Linked DNA regions of Homo sapiens: region 1 is linked to region 2. The links come from fine-mapping of genetic effects on gene expression. A gene starts in region 2. The other region holds a variant in brackets. All regions are shown on one strand. Distances are between the middles of the regions.

Region 1 (8,336 bases), 710 kb before region 2:
ACAAGAAAATAACATCCGCTAGTATCAAAGCATGTTCAACTAGAACCCAGAGCTAACTATTCTAATTACTAAGTTAGCCAGACCCCCTCCCCATCCTAGTATTAAGTCTAATTTTTGGACCTTGTATATTAAATTAGTTTCTTAATTTTGTAAAACAACGCATAGCTTCTGTCAAACTTATGTATCTTAAGACTCAATATAACCCCCTTGTTATAACTGAAGAATCAACGATTTGACTCCCCAAAAACACAAGTGAGGAATGTAATGCCCAACCTTGTTTTTACTAACCCTGTTCTTAGACTCTCCCTTTCTTTTAATCACCTAGCCTTGTTTCAACCTGAACTGACTCTCCCTTAGCTAAGAGAGCCAGACAGACTCCATCTTGGCTCTTTCACTGGCAGCCCCTTCCTCAAGGACTTAACTTGTGCAAGCTGACTCCCAGCACATCCAAGAATGCAATTAACTGATAAGATACTGTGGCGAGCAATATCCGCAGTTCCCAGGAATTCGTCCAATTGATAACGCCCAAAGCCCCGCATCTGTCACCTCATAATAGTCTAAAAGCCCCTAGACCTAGAACTGTTTACTTTCCTGTAACAATTTATCCTTTTAACTTTTTTGTCTACTTCTGTAAAATTCCTACTTTTGTAAAAAATCCCCCTCCCCTTTCTAAACCAAAGTATAAAAGAAAATCTAGCCCCTTCTTCGAGGCCGAGAGAACTTTAAATGTTAGCCATTTCTTAGCCACCGGCTAAATGAACAGACTCTTAATTCGTCTCAAAGTGTGGCATTTTCTCTAACTCGTTCAACTACAACACATCCGGCAGGCACGTAATCCACTCTAAAATGCCATCCTGGGGTAGTGAAGATGATGTTGCTGGAAATATCCTTAAATAGCATGTGGATGAGTTCCCCCAGACGCATACATGTTGAGCTAAGTACTTTGCTGATGAAGGGTACAAGTTGAAGGGGTTTTGAAAGGCAGAGTGAGGTTCCTCAGAAGGCTGTTGCTACAGAAAGCCAGGAGGAGAAATTACATGGCCAGATAGAGTGGCATGACCATTGGATAAGGGCTTTTTGTTTGTTTTTGAGATGGAGTTTTACTCTTGTTGCCCAGGCTGGAGTGCAATGGCACGATCTCAGCTCACTGCAACCTACGCCTCCCAGGTTCAAGCGATTCTCCTTCCTCAGCCTCCCTAGTAGCTGGGATTACAGGCATGTGCCACCACGCCCGGCTAATTGTGTATTTTTCATAGAGATGGGGTTTCTCCATGTTGGTCAGGCTGGTCTTGAACTCCCGACCTCAGGTGATCCGCCCGCCTTGGCCTCCCAAAGCGCTGGGATTACAGGCGTGAGTCACCGTGCCCAGCCTGGATGAGGGTCTTTAGCAAAGATGGAAGTTTTGGTACCTTGCAGTTTAATCTCTTCATTTATGTCCTCCTGAAATCTTCAGGAATAGCACTATTTTGTCAATACTTCTGGGGTCGTACTTAGGGAGACTTAAAGGAGATGTGATGTGGCAGCCTTTGACTCAAGGGAGTATCATACTAGCTCAAAGAGATCTGGGTACATGCCAGTTGAACCAACTCTTTTGAGGATGTGGTAGATCCTGGGAGGCCACTCTGATCCTGCCAACCTTGAGGCCAGATGAGTCTTTGAAAAACATGGTTTGGCTTAACACCAGCACTTAGTCTAACACCCACCATGAATCTTGCTGAAGTGAAGCTATACAAATACCTTTTCAAAAGATTTTTTTTCATTCCAGATCCTTCTTAGAAATTCCTAAGGCTCAATGTTGTGTGGAAGATTCTGAGAAAGAAAATAGTTTCCGATCTTTGGGATTCCCCTGAGATGGTCCAATCTGCAAAAAGTTCATTGCCATTTCCATCAAGGACACTGAGAACAAGAGTCTTATCCGCATTGAATCCTGGGAATTGAGAAGCTTCAGCAGGTGGGAAATGCACCCTCCACAGGCTCAAACCCTTGTGGGCTGTTTCAGTTACCTATTGCACCTAAAATTAGAAACTTTAAACCACCTCAAGTCATTATTGCTCATGACCCTGTGAGTTGCATGGGGACTTCCTGGCTGTTTTAACCGGGGCTCATTTGTGTGGCTACCTGCAGCTGGAGGGCCAGCTGGGTGGAACATCCAGGACGACCTCATGCATGTGCCTGGCAGTTGGTGCTGGCTGTCAGCTGGGGAAACTTGTTTTCCTCCATGTGGCCCCTCGCCCTGCAGAACCCCTCTCCAAATGGCCCTTTAAGCAGGATAGCCAAGGTTTGCTTGGTGCCAGCATCCAAGAGGGCAAAAATATAGAAACTAGGAGAGGGCTCTCAAGGCCTAAGACTATATGCACCCCAAAAATCTGAGGTCTCAGTTAATTGAGAAAGTTTATTTTGCCAAGGTTGAGGACGCACGCCTGACACAGCCTCAGGAGGTCCTGACAATATGTGCCTAAGGTGGTGGGGACACAGCTTGGTTTGATACATTTTAGAGAGACATGAGACATCAATCAATATGTGTAAGATGTACATTGGTTCAGTCTGGAAAGTCGGGACAAGTCCAGGTGAAGGTGATGGTGAGACAAGGGGTAGGGGCTTCCAGGTCATAGGTAGTTAAGAGACAAATGGTTGCATTCTTTTGAGTTCCTGATTAGCCTCTCCAAATGAGGCAATCAGATATACATTTATCTCAGTGAGCAAAGGGGTAACTGAATAGAATGGGAGGCAGGTTTCCCCTAAGCAGTTCCCAGCTTGACTTTTCTCTTTAGCTTAGTAACTTTTTTTTGTTGGGGGGGACAGAGTCTCGCTCTGTTGCGCAGGCTGGAGTGCAGTGGTACCATCTCGGCTTACTGCAACCTCCAACTCCAGTGTTCAAGCAATTTCCCTGCCTCAGCATCCCAAGTAGCTGGGATTACAGGCGCCTGCCACCACGCCTGGCTAATTTTCATATATTTTAGTAGAGACGGGGTTTTGTCATGTTGGCCAGGCTGGTCTTGAACTCCTGACCTCAGGTGATCTGCCCGCCTCAGCTTCCCAAAGTGCTGGGAACTCCTGACCTCAGGTGATCCGCCTGCCTCAGCTTCCCAAAAGTGCTGGGATTACAGGTGTGAGCCACCGAGCCCAGCCTAGCTTAGTGATCTTGGGGACCCAAGGTTTATTTTCCTTTCACGGCTAGAAGTTGGTCACCATCACTTTGGCAGCATTCCACTGGCCAAAGCAAGTCATAGGCAGCCCAGATTTATGTAGAGAAATATAAACTCTACCTCTTAAAGGAAAGATTGGTTCGATTACACTGCACGAGCATTTGCAGAAAGTTGTACCCATCTTTGGAAACTACCATACACACACACACACACACACACACACACACACACAACTTTACATGTAACCCTCCCTTGAGGTGCATCTACTTCCAGGCAGAACCAAAACTTGACAGTACTCGACAGAAGAAAAGTAGGGTCCCAAATGCCAGTTCTCTTCTTACTCAACTTCAGCCTCATTATAAGCAGATTCTAACAGTTTATGTGTCTTGAGAAACATTTTAGTTAATCTTTGGAATTTAAGAATTTGAATTCATAGCAGTAGCCTGTGCATAGAAAATACGCATATTTTAAGTTTTTCCTTTCTGATAAATCATGCTGTGGGAACCACAATGTAACTTTTTTTTTTTTTTTGAGACCGAGTCTCACTCTGTTGCCCAGGCTGGAGGGCAGTGGCATGATCTCAGCTCACTGCAACCTCCGCCTTCTGGGTTCAAGTGATTCTCCTGCCTCAGCTTCCTGAGTAGCTGGGATTACAGGCACACAAGACGGGGTTTCACCATGTTGGTCATGTTGGTCTCGAACTCCTGACCTCTGATCTGCCCACCTCAGCCTCCCAAAGTGCTGGGATTATAGGCGTGAGCCACCCGCTTACTTATACTATAACTGTATATTGAAAGTTTCTCTTTTTTCAAAAATAATTAACAGGTTTAACAGAATGTATCTCCTGATCTATTCCTTTCACTGCAGACATCTATTGCCTTTTCAGCCTAGCAGCCCTCCCCTCTATAGAGACTCACACTTCCTACTCCAGTCACGTGGCT[C/T]TCATAGGGGCTGCCATATTCTTACATGACTCCACCCCTCTGGCCTCAGTTGATTGGTCCAGGGATGAGAATCTGGCCTAAATTGGCCAATCAGAATTCTTCCCTTGAATATTTTTCCAAACTGTAACTAGACCAATTTAATCATTCTCCGTGATGACAGGAACTGTGTGTAGTGAGAAATATAGGAGCTTTTGTGGCCACGTTTCTCACCTTATGGAGAAAAAGCTTGAGTAAGAAGAAATTAAGCCAGTATGCAGACAAAGCTAGAGACAGAGATAGAGAGAGAGATCTTATGGTAAACCCCTTGGTTTTTATCATTCTAGTACATGCTTGCTACTACATACAACCAAGACTTTCACCTGAGGGCTTTCTCAAAGTCAGGCATGGATTATGTCAGAAAAGCCACAGAAGCCAGGTACAGTGGTTCACTCCTGTAATCCCAACACTGGGAGGCCGAAGCAGGTGGATCACGAGGTCAGGAGTTTGAGACCAGACTGATCAACATGGCAAATCTCCGTCTCTACAAAAAATAAAAAAAATAGCAGGGCATGGTGGCAGGCACCTGTAATCCCAACTACTCAGGAAGCTGAGGCAAGAGAATCGTTTGAACCTGGGAGGCAGATGTTGCAGTGAGCCGAGATCATGCCATTGCAGTCCAGCCTGGGTAACAGAGCAAGACTATGTCTCAAAAAAAAAAAGAAAAAAGAAAAGCCAGAGAGTTGATGCCCTGGGACCTGTCCTCAGCCAGTGACGGATGGGAGCTAGGCTATAAATGCTTCAATATCTTTGCCCCCTGGATGGAACAACTTTGAAATGCATTCCACATCACCTCCCAGAGGTCCCCAGTGGGGTCAAATCCTAGTTGCCTGGAGTGGTAAGCTGCTCATTGAAGGCCCCTGTGTGGCCTCCTGCCTTTCCATGAATCAGTTCCTCACTCCCCTATTGGTGTTCCCTGGAATCATCTCCTAAATAATCCACTTGCAATCCTGTCCCTCTTTCAGGATCTGCTTGGGGTTGGGGAGTGCAGACAAAAACATGACCCCTTTTGTACTCCACACTAGTAAGATGAGTTTCTGTCACTGGCAACCAAGAGTTCTGACTATTACCTCCTTCTGAGATAATTCCTAAAATGTATTTGGGAATTTTCCCACCTCCACCCCACTGCCTATGTCATCAATATGTAGATTTCTTAACAAAGTTTAATGGTATTCTTTGACCAACCTCAAGTTTCACAAAACACACTACACTTTCATAAGAGCTCCCCATGACTGACAGATCAGCCGTTCAAAAGAAGGGAAGTGTCAGAGATGGCTCTGCTAGACTCACGTATTTTTCAGTAGAATCTGGGTCAGGATGGTGCGGTCAGAAGATGCTTCTGGAGCTCTGGGACCCACAAGCCTGCGTGTCCCACAGTGGAGTATTAGGACAACTTGAAAACATAGTCAGCAGTTCATCCTCCACCACACCCAATGTGTTCAATAGATATTGGTTAAATGAATAATAGGGCCGGGCATGGTGGCTCACGCCTGTAATCCCAGCACTTTGGGAGGCTGAGGCAGGTGGATCACCTGAGGTCAGGAGTTCAAGACCAGCCTGGCCATAGAGGCAGGGGAAGCACTTGAACCTGGGAGGCAGAGTTTACAGCACGCTGAGATGGCATCACTGTACTCCAGCCTGGGCGACAGAGCGAGACTCAAACAAAAAAATAATGGATTTATTCCTTCCAAACTGCAACTCACCAAAAGAAGACCAACACGCATCACAATGTTGTGGCCATAATCACCACAGTGACAATAATAAATATAATCAACTCTCGAGCCAGCCATCCCCACTAAACCTAGTGGGTCACATCTGGTGTTTCACTTTGGGGATGTTTTAGTGGTCATGGTAGATTGTTGTCTGACTGCTGGCTGTTTCTACCATGTTTCAGGAATATAGAGATGTGTACAGATGACCCCTAAAATTAATTAGTATGCAATTCTCAAAGAGACAAACTGTATCCCAGAAGCTACTGGAATGAAAAAAAAATGTTTTAATTCTCAAAGAGACAAACTAGATAGTAAAAGCATTTATGTTCCCTTGGAGAATCTTCCCACCAAGGACTCAAAGTTGTCTCCAGACCAGGGAATGCCTGGGGCCTTGGACGTTCCCAATTCTGGTATCACCTCCCATTCTCATTTAAGTCCAGTTTTCTCAGAGGAGCATACATTGTTCATTGCCACCAAGGGTATCCAAGGACACAAACTGAAGATAATAGTGCTTTATTGTCTCTCAGTCATCTTTCTCTCCCACCTGCTGGAAGGAGAGACAAGTCCAATTTATCCAATTACAAAATAGCAACATTGGCATCATGAGATCAGCTAACAAAACTTTCAGAGGCAATCTATCTTCCTACCAAAAGTAACCAACATCTGTGGAGCACTTACCATGACTAAGGGTCAACATAAGTGGTTTGCATGCTGCATGCATCAGGATGGACTAGGTTATGCTGCAGTAACAAATTAACCACAGAGACTCAGCAGCTTAGCAACCAAGGTTGATTTCTTACATTCCATGTCCACAATGGGTTGGCTGGGTACGGTGTGCTCCATATGGCCACTCGAAGACCTAGAATGATGGAAATTCTACCATCTTAATGCAAGGATTCTCCCATAGTTACTGCACCATGAGATGAGAGAATGAGATAGTTATCCCCAAGCCCTCAAAAGCTGTAGACTAGAGGTGAAGTCAGTGACTTCCACTTATAGAGCACTGGACCCTGGCATGGATCCATCTAACTACTGGGGGTCTGGTGAATACGGGGAGCACATGGAAATCCCATGAGCAGTAACCATTCCCGCCAGCATGCATTATTTCATCTGAACCTCACAACCCCATGGAATATATAACAGAGGCTTGGGGAGTTATGGGACCTGCCCCAAGGCGTCATAGATAATGAGTTGCAGAGCTGAGATATGACCCTCGGCCTGGCAGGATTCAAACCACTATGCTGCATACTCATCACAAAATTCTATGAAATTCCTCAGACAGCAAAACCCCACACCAAGTGAAAAGAAAGCCAAGTTGTGCAAATACACAATAGAACTCCCCTGACACTTCACCTCCTCACCCACCCCACCCCCACCGAAAGAATCAACCTACGCAAATAACTGGAATGAAATTCTCAGGCAATTTCAGCAGGGGAAATGGGGTTATCTCATCTGGGTCTCACATCCGACCTCGTCAAGACAAGACCTTCCCTAAACTTCACCTGAACACCTGGACACACTGTCATGTCTTGCCGCTTCTTGTTACTGGAAATCCAATGATGATGTCTTTATACAATTTATAGGTCTTTCTATAAGTGCCAAGATAAATGTCATCTCTGTACCTGCATATCATTCAGAGGTAGGCAAGCTTCTATGTAAACTGCTAGATAGTAAATATTATAAACTTTGCAGGACTCATCTGATCTCCATCCTATATAATTTTTTATTTTTGTTTTTTATAATTTTTTTTTCTTTTTAGATAGCGTCTAAAAAGAAAATAAAACTTATCCATGCTGTGATATGGATGAACGTTAAAAACATGCTGAGTGAAAGAAGCAGACATGAAAGGTCATATATTGTACAATTCCATTTATATGCAATGTTCAGACTAAGCCAATCGACAGAGGTAGAAAGTAGATGAGAGGTTTCCGAGGGCTGCAGAGGAGAGGGCATGGAGAGTGACTGCTGAATGGATATGAGGCTTCCAATTGAGGTGTTGAAAAAGCCCTGAAACTAGGTAGTGGTGATAATTGCACAACATGATAAATGTACAAAATGTCACTGAATTGTACACTTTCAGATGCACAAAATGGTAAAAGTTGCATATGTTATACCACAATTTTATTCATTTATTTTAGAGATAGAGTCTCACTCCGTCACCTAGGCTGCAGTGCAATGGCACAATCATAGCTCACTGCTGTCTTTACCGCCTGGGCTCAAGCAATCCTCCCACCTAGTCTTCCAAGTTTCTGGGACTACAGGTGAATCCTACCACACCCAGCTTTTTAAATTTTTTTTATAGAGTTGCATTCTCACTATATTGCCCAGACTGGCCCAAACTCCTGGATTCAAGTGATTCTCTCATCTCAGCCTCCCAAAGTGCTGGGATAACAGGTGTAAGCCATCAGGCCAGGCAATTTTTAATTCTTATGTGAAATTTTCAACTAATATATTCCTAGGATTAAAAAAATGTCGATCAACATGGGGATTAGAGGAAAAAA
Region 2 (8,336 bases):
AATTTTTTTTTTTTTTTTTTGAGACGGAGTCTCGCTCCTGTCGCCCATGCTGGAGTGCAGTGGCGTGATCTCGGCTCACTGCAACCTCTGCCTCCTGGGTTCAAGTGATTTTCCTGCCTCAGCTTCCTGAATAGCTGGGGTTACAGGCGCCCGCCACCGTGCCTGGCTAATTTTTGTAGTTTAGTAGAGACAGGGTTTCACCATGTTGGCCAGGCTGATCTCGAACTCCTGACCTCAAGTGATCTGCCTGCCTCGGCCTCCCAAACTGCTAGGATTATAGGCATGAGCCATCGTGCCTGGCCATGCCCGGCTAATTTTTTATATTTTTGGTAGAGATGGGGTTTCATCATGTTGGCCAGGCTGGTCTTGAACTCTTGACCTCATGATCTGCCCGCCTCAGCCTCCCAAAGTGCTGGGATTACAGGTATGAGCCACTGCGCCCCGCCCCTAAAGCAGTTTTAAGGCTGCAAAGCCAATTCACACGAAACAGCAAATACTATGAGAAAGTCTACAGAGTCAGATATCAAAATTACAATTACATAATTATTTGCTTAATGGCTGTATTCCTTCTAGGCCATCCGTTCCATAAGCCTGGGGACTGGGCCGGGTGCGGTGGTTTACGCCTATAATCCCAGCACTTTGGGAGGCTGAGATGGGTGGATCACGAGGTCAGGAGATCGAGACCATCCTGGCTAATATGGTGAAACCCCGTCTCTACTAAAAATACAAAAAATTATCTGGGCATGGTGGCGGGCGCCTGTAGTCCTAGCTACTCGGGAGGCTGAGGCAGGAGAATGGCTAGAACCCGGGAGGCAGAGCTTGCAGTGAGCCAAGATAGCGCCACTACACTCCAGCCTGGGCGACAGAGTGAGACTCTGTGTCAAAAAACAAAAACAAAAACAAAAACAAAAACAAAAACAAAACCTGGGGACTGAATTTACCTTTTTCATCATTTTCCCAGCACCTAGAACAGTGTCTGGAATACAGGAGGTGCCTAAATATTTATCATCTGACCAAATGATTGCAATGATTTAATAATTGGGTTTAATACTTGTTATTCTGCAGCAATGCCTGCTGCATGAATTATTTTCCTCACAAATTCACTTATAAAACTTTCAACATCTGAGCAAACCACTCATAAACTATGCATAAAGTGAGTGCCTATCTTAGTGAGTAACTAAAATACTTAAAGTTCCTATATGTAGAGATAATACGTATGTAAGCAGATTAGATCATTGCTATCTTGGTGGGATTTGAGAGATGCTGGAAAGCACTTCTTTTTGAAAATATGTAATTTTTCCATTAGATATTAATTCCTTCGAGTTGTGAAGATTTTGAAGTCTTCCAATTTCCCCATTAAAGCACAGAAATGACACCCAAAGCCTTTATCCCCCCCAACATTTTTGCAGAATTTGTTGAAATGCAAGCCCAGGCTAAACCATGGGGATAATGTAATATCCTCCTTATATAACTGGGCTGTGCTTTAGTCTGATGAAAATTAGATTAGATGGAGATCAGAGAAGCCACTTTCAGATTAAAACTCTGAGAAAAGCACCTGTGGATCACATTCTAAGACACCTAAAGAATTAAGATTGACATGAAAAAGCATTTATAATTGATAGTATCTTTGAGTTCAAAGCTCTGCATATCTCATTATCAAGTTCAAAGTAATGCTGTCATTTTTTCTCAGTAACGATGCTCTTATCTCCAAGATGACAAAGCTGACGGGAACAAGATCAGGAAGCCGAGTCTGGGGGTTGGGAGTTGAACCCTACATCTCCTGACTCCCAGACCCCTTTTCTGGTGCCTCTTTGTCACTCAAGCTGTCAAACACCTTTGCACGCAGCAGTGTCCCTTGGCTGGGTGTGGTGGCTCATGCCTGTAATCCCAGCACTTCGGGAGGTCAAGGTGGGAGGATCGCTTGAGTCCAGAAGTTTGAGACAAGCATGGGCAAACATGGCAAGATCTCGTCTCTAAAAAAGAATACAAAAATTAACCGATGCATGGTGGCATGTACCTATGGTCCCAGCTATTTGGGAGGCTGAAGTGTGAGGATCACTCGAGACACTGCATGCCAGACTGGGCAATAGAGCGAGACCCTGTCTCAAAAAAAAAGTGTCCCTCGTGGGTTTGGTTGCATGAGAATGCTTGGTGTTCAATTCTTGAGGTTATTAGAAGATTGAACTTTGAAATCATCCCGCAACCTTGAACCAAAAGGTGAAATTGTCCACTTTGATAGATGACAACGGAAGGATCCTTTGGTTCAATGGACAGCTTGTAAATATAAAACAGTTGCTGGAAAATTATATTAGAGATGAGCTATCTCCTCCATTACAATGTTTGCTTTTCTTTAATGCGATTGAGTTCCAACAGAAAGGCTTGGGAGGGGCCACAAGCAATGCTTCAGGAGTTACTGGAAGAGAGATATGGGGAGTGAGAGAGGAGATCCATCGATGTGGAGCAGGGGCCAGGGGAGGCCTTCTGCCCAGGAGGCCTGTGCTGAGGACCCTGGCTGTGCCCAAGGGAAACTGAATTCAGAGCTCCTCCTGCATCATAAATCCAGGACAGCTGGCAGCTCTCCAAGGAAGACTGGCGCTAAACTCCAAGGGCATCAGCCGCCAGATTGGCCAACCCCTACAATGCCCTTTGAGAGCTGAGCCCCAGGTGTGTTGAATCGGGATTCCGTTCCAACCTCATGACCACATTCATTTACAAGCCCTGCATTTTGTTAATTTAAAAATGCACTCACCAGGAGGGAAGGAGGAGAGGCTCCATTAAATATAAGACAGCTGAAAGGCTGGAATTCTTCTGACATGCATGTCTTAGGAAGGAGAAGGCCTGACCTTGTTCTTTTTTTTTTTGAGACAGGGTCTCACTCTGTCACCCAGACTGGAGTGCAGTGGTGCAATAATAACTCACTGCAGCCTCTACCTACTGGGCTCAAGTGACGTGACCTCCCACCTCAGCCTCCCCAGTAGCTGGAACTACAGGCACATGCCACCATGCCTGGGTCGCTATGTTATCGGGGCTGGTCTCCAACTTTTGTTCTCCAGCGATCCTCCCACCTCAGCCTCTCAAAGTATTGGAATACAGGTGTGAGCCACCGAGCCTGGCCAGGCCTGACTTCTGAATGCATTCGTTTCTTGATCTTTTACCCCGAGTGCACGTGCAAGTTGCACCCCTGGCCACTGGGTTTTGCAGAGTGTGGCGTTCCAGTGTCCGGGGCCCCACGCCCGTCCGCAGGCTACTGGAATGCTGAGGGCGAGGAGGCTTCGCTCCACGCACACCGGATCGGCCTGCACTTCAGGGGCCAGGTCTACAGCCTTCCCCAGCGCAGACGCCGCCGGCCCGGCCGGTTCCCGAGGGCGGGGCTGCGCGGCCTCACGCCCCGCCCACCGCGGGCAGAGGCGGGGCATGGGTCACGTGACGGCACGCCGACCAGCGAGGCCCCGCCCGGCGGGAGGAGGCCCGGCCGCGACCCGGGCCGCGCGCTGAGGAGCCGCCCGGTCGCCTGCGCGCTCCCTCCGGCGGCGTCCCCAGCCCGCGGCCCCTCTGCTGCCGGCCCCCGGCTCGCCGGCTGCGGGAGTGGCCTCAAGATGGATGAAGACGGCGGCGGCGAGGGTGGTGGCGGTGAGTGTCGGAGGTGTGGTGGGCTCGCCGGCGGCCTGGGGTCGGGGGCCGGGGGCTGGGGGTCGAGGGCGCGGCGCTGGGCCGGGGTTCGCCGGAGGAGACGGGGTCGGGGGCAGCGGCAGCGGCGTCCGCTGGAGGCCTGAGGCACGCCGGGCCAGGGCCGAGGCTGGGTCTCCGGGGGCCGAGGGAGGGGGCGGGCCGGGGTCGCCGTTCGGCGCTGGCGAGGGTCTGGGTACCAGGCCGGGGCTGCCGCGGGCTGGGGTCGCCCCGGAGTCTCGGGCCGGGGTTTGGGTGTCGCTCCTCTGGGGCGGGGGACCTTGCGGGGCGACCTTCCCCGCATCTTGTCGCCAAGGGCGTTCATGCCCTCCGGAGCCCGGCGTTTCGGACGCCCCCTTTCAGCTCAGGTGGGCGGAAGCGGCTGAGCCGGTGGGAAACCGGGAGGGGAAAGTTTTGCACTGGAGGCTCCTCGAGTGTACAGGACGGGAGGGCAGGGGAAACGGTTGGAAAGCGTGACAGTCTGCTTGGCTTTGGGTCAGAAACGGTCGCTGGATTTGCTCGAACGGGGAGGGGGCCAGCTGGAGTTCAGTTCAGGGTAGACGTTTTAGGAAACGGCAGACGCGACAGATTGAGCAAAAAACTCCGTGGAGCCGAGGGTGGGAGACACGAGCTGCACCCAGCACAGAGGCAAGACCGGAGAGCCAGGTGTGCCCGGAGCCAGGTGTGCTCCCGAGTGGGTCGGGTCGATGCGCGTCGTGGCCCAGGTGGTCTGTGTCTGACGTTCGGTTTCCTCTTGCTGGAGGAATCGTGTTTGTTGGAAATTATTTAGTGGAATACAAATGACTGCTGGGTCATGCTGGGAATTAGATTTTAAAAACAGAGGAACGTGCCTCTGTATGGAGTGGGTGTTCGCTTTGGAAAGCAAAGGGTTAATGCCCGTGTTTTTACAGGAACAGCCGAAGTTGAGGTTCTCTAGACTTTTTTTTTTTTTCCTGAAGATCTCCTTTGAGCTGACAGAGAAATCATCAGAATCATCAGAACCCCATGTAATAAGGGAGCAGTTTAGAGAAATCTTAATTACAGGCTGCCGGTGCAGCTGCCTGTAAGAATCAGCAGTATTGAATGCTTCAGGATGAAGTGGTTCATCATCAAGGTGCCTTCCAGAATTCAAGTGCTGCTCAGAGGGAGATGTTTTTTTGCTGAAAGACGCGATGCAGCCAGGATGGTGGGAAGTTGGCACCCGTCATGGCATTTGGCGAGTTCAGTTCTTATAGTTGAAGCTAGGGGTAGCACTGTGGCACCGAGTGGGTGTGTTGATGGGAGCGCTGTGGAACGAAGGCGCCCAGTTGCGAACCCTCCTACAGTCAGGCTGTCTGGAGCCATGAGATCCTAAGGAATGGGTTCCCGGTGGATGTCGTGTTTCCTGCCTGTCACAATTTGGGCATAGCTGTTTTCCCTTGTTAGAAAAGAAAGACAACTGTAATATGCAGACGTTGGACATTAGCGTCAAGGCAGCTAGCTGGCTTGGCAGTTTTGTTTGTAAGGTGCTTTGGGCTCTGTGAGTAAAGAAATGTAGACTTGAAGATTAAAGCAGGAATAAAGAGGAAAAGAGGAGGCTTTAATGTGCTCCAGCAATTTGCAGGTCTTGAGTACTATAACAAAGGATGATATGAAGTATCAAAAGTCTTAAAATTGTCCTTGGGTTGTTAGTATCTCTTCTGGGAATATATCACAGGGAAGCAACCTTGAAATAAACCCCTCACGTATAAAGATGTGTATTATGCTGTTTAAAATAGCAAAAAATTGGAAACAGCAACGCCAACAGCAGGGGCATGGTGAGGTAAATTATGGGAAGTTTATTGAAGTATTTTACAACCATTAAAATAAGCAGTTTTATACATCATGGTTTAAACAACATAAACATTGGTGACATTATGGATTATTTTATTTTCTTTTTATATTTTCCAGGTTTCTGGAATAAGTGTGTATTTCAGATTGGAAAAAAACCATCAAAGACGTGAATGTTTTAAGTGTATCATTTAATTCATCTCACTGGAACATTCAACAATGAAGATTTATTTATTGATTGCCCATCAAAATGCTAGCCAGCATGTTAGGTGCTGGAAAATAACTTTTAACCTTTATTGATTTAGTTTATGACTAGCTTTCTCCCTTGCTTTGTGACAGACACTTAAAAATATTTTTGGCAATATTAGGATATTTATTTTTGAAACAGGTGAAAAGCAAAGTTTTGAAATATGAGTGATATTGTAATTATTGTATAAACTTTATGTGCTTACATTTAACTCTTGGCTGTTGTAAGTTTTGAAGTTAACATACCTCTTTACAGTTAATACCTTTTAGATTTTTAAATGCTTTAAAATTCATGTTTAAAAAAATAAAGTTGAGCTCTTTTAAAGAAAACCGTTTCAGCTGCCAGCAGATTATAAAGCATAACATTTTTTGGTATATTTTTAGAGTGTAGTACATAATGTTGAACTGTATCTGGGGGAGTCAGTTAAAGCTTGTTTAAAAGATAGGGTAAATAATCTATTCAAACAGTAGTTATGGTAGAAGCCAAAGATAATTGAAAAGGTCTTTTTTTTGTTAATGGTCAGGTTAAAAGACTTGAAAAATTGATTCCTACTTGCTATTTTTATAAGTTAATTTAGCTTTTTGTCCACTGTATTGTTCTTTCAATGCAAGATAAGGAGAGAGAGGATGGTGGCATGAATGGCTGGAAGGCAGTTACAAGAGGAGCGAGTGGGGGGCACAAGATTACAAGAACACATTGTTCCTTACAGTGTGTGCAGAGTGTAGTTAAGTCGTTTTTAATTCCTATGGGACTTTGTTGCCTTTCAGTTTTTCGAGAACAGTTCTTGAGCTAATTGGAGGGTAGCTGGCTAGTTTGGCTCATTGGGATTGTCTTCGTGTCCTGTTTGGGCATTTGTCTGATTGATGGTCCTGAATGGACCATCCCTGGCAGATGAGGTGAATTAACTATAATTGGCATTCTTCTCTCTGACCCCTTCACTCCCTGATCAATGTAGGTGTCTGTGCTTCAGGTGAAGAGATGCTGAGCCTTGTTCATAATAAAATACATGCAAATTAAGACTAGATTGAGCTCCCACCTTTCACCTTCAGACAGGTGATAACCCCCAAGTATACAAAGTCTGTTTCAAGTTTGAAATATTTGAACGGCAAGGTCGTTTCAAACATTTACGGGTAAGAGTGTAAAGTAGCCACAGGCAGGGTCAGCCCATGTCCTGTTGGCTCAGATCCGTTTCTTGCCCTTTCCCTGCAGGGACTCACCCCTGCAGGCAACATTTCCCAGGCCCTTGGTCAGCTGGCTTCCGGCTGGGATTGGCCACTGGGAGCCACTGGCAGGAGGAATGGCAGGAAGAAGGACAAAAACAGGTTATTTCCCTTAGGCCTGCCTCAGGGAGTGTCTCTGGCAGGTACCTTGTCTCCTTTTGGCTCCAGCTCCTGCCCCTTGGTCCTAGCCTTTGAGTCTTGGAAATACCTCCTCCCTTTTACCCTCTATTTGAGAAGTGGTAACAGCAGCTTGCTCTTGATAATCTTTGTATTATCATTTCCTGTTTGGCTTTTCAGTTTTTCCATCACCCCTGTCACTAATTCCTTATATTAAATTCCCTCTATATCAGATTCTTAAAGGGATGGTTTCTCTGGATGTCTCTGTTTCTCTGGGTGGACCCTGATAGATACAGGTGCTTTAGGCAGTAGCTTTAAAAATTACAGGCGTGTAAATCCTTTGACCCAGCAATCCAGTTCTAGGAATTTAACCTGCAGATATATTTGTACACGTGTGAGATAACATAGGTACAAGATTATTTATTGCCTTGAGTGTCCATCAGCAAGCAAGAGACTTATCAGATAAATCCATGCCCAGATGGTTAATGAGGTTGTAAAGTTGTAGAAAGGAACGAGGAAGCTCTTTTCTTAGTTGACATGGAGAGATCTCCAAAATATCTTAAGTTACAAGAGCAGGCCGGGCGCGGCGGCTCTCACCTATAATCCTAGCACTTTGGGAGGCCGAGGCGGGTGGATCATTTGAGGTCAGGAATTCAAGACCAGCCTGGGCAGCATGGTGAAACTCCGTTTCTACTAAAAAAATACAAAAATTAGCCGGGAGTGGTGGTGCGTGCCTGTAATCTCAGCTACGCGGGAGGCTGAGGCAGGAGAATCGCTTGAGCCTGGGAGGTGCAGGTTGCGGTGAGTGAGATTGCGCCACTGCATTCCAGTCTGGGCAACAGAGTGAGACCCTGTCTCAAAAAAACAAAACAAAATTACAAGAGCAAAGTGTAGGAAAGTGTGCATTGCGTGCTCCCATTCTTGTGTTTTGAAAGAGGAGGTAATGGCTGATGCATGCAGATTCCCTGGAAGGTGAAAGGAGGAACCAATAACAATGGTTACCTGATTGGGGAAGATGATGGGAACTGAGTGGATGGGGAATATAGGTGGGAAGGAAACTTTTCACTATGCGCCTTTTTATTTTTTGAAATTCAAAAAAGTTTGAATAATCTGTCTTCACTTTTTCTAAAATTGGAAAGCAGTTTCATAGAAAAATAGTATGATGGTAAGAAAATACCCATTTTACACCTTTTTTGAGGGAATTTTTATAGATTAAAAAATACAGCTGGGCGCAATGGCTCACGCCTGTAATCCCAGCACTTTGGGAGGCCAAGGCG

Direction of the effects. Positions count from the first base shown, and alleles are read on the strand shown. Sizes are in standard deviations (SD) of each study's normalised expression.
For the expression in lung of the gene that starts at base 3,480 in region 2, T is the low allele of the variant in region 1 and C is the other (moderate effect, 0.70 SD a copy in GTEx).

What was found.
Region 1: its variant is fine-mapped to the expression of CYTH3 in lung (GTEx, PIP above 0.99).

What each region holds. Positions count from the first base shown.
Region 1 is chr7:6,980,840-6,989,175 of GRCh38, reverse strand. It overlaps LOC107986763 (a long non-coding RNA gene), which reads left to right and starts at 1,593. Exons shown (of 3, transcript XR_001745073.1): 1 at 1,593-1,951. The variant C/T (reference allele first, on the strand shown) is at 4,088.
Region 2 is chr7:6,267,768-6,276,103 of GRCh38, reverse strand. CYTH3 (cytohesin 3) reads left to right here and starts at 3,480. Exons shown (of 13, transcript NM_004227.4): 1 at 3,480-3,630. The coding sequence starts at 3,597. RefSeq lists silencers at 3,253-3,612, 3,933-4,102 and enhancers at 3,421-4,142, 4,143-4,865.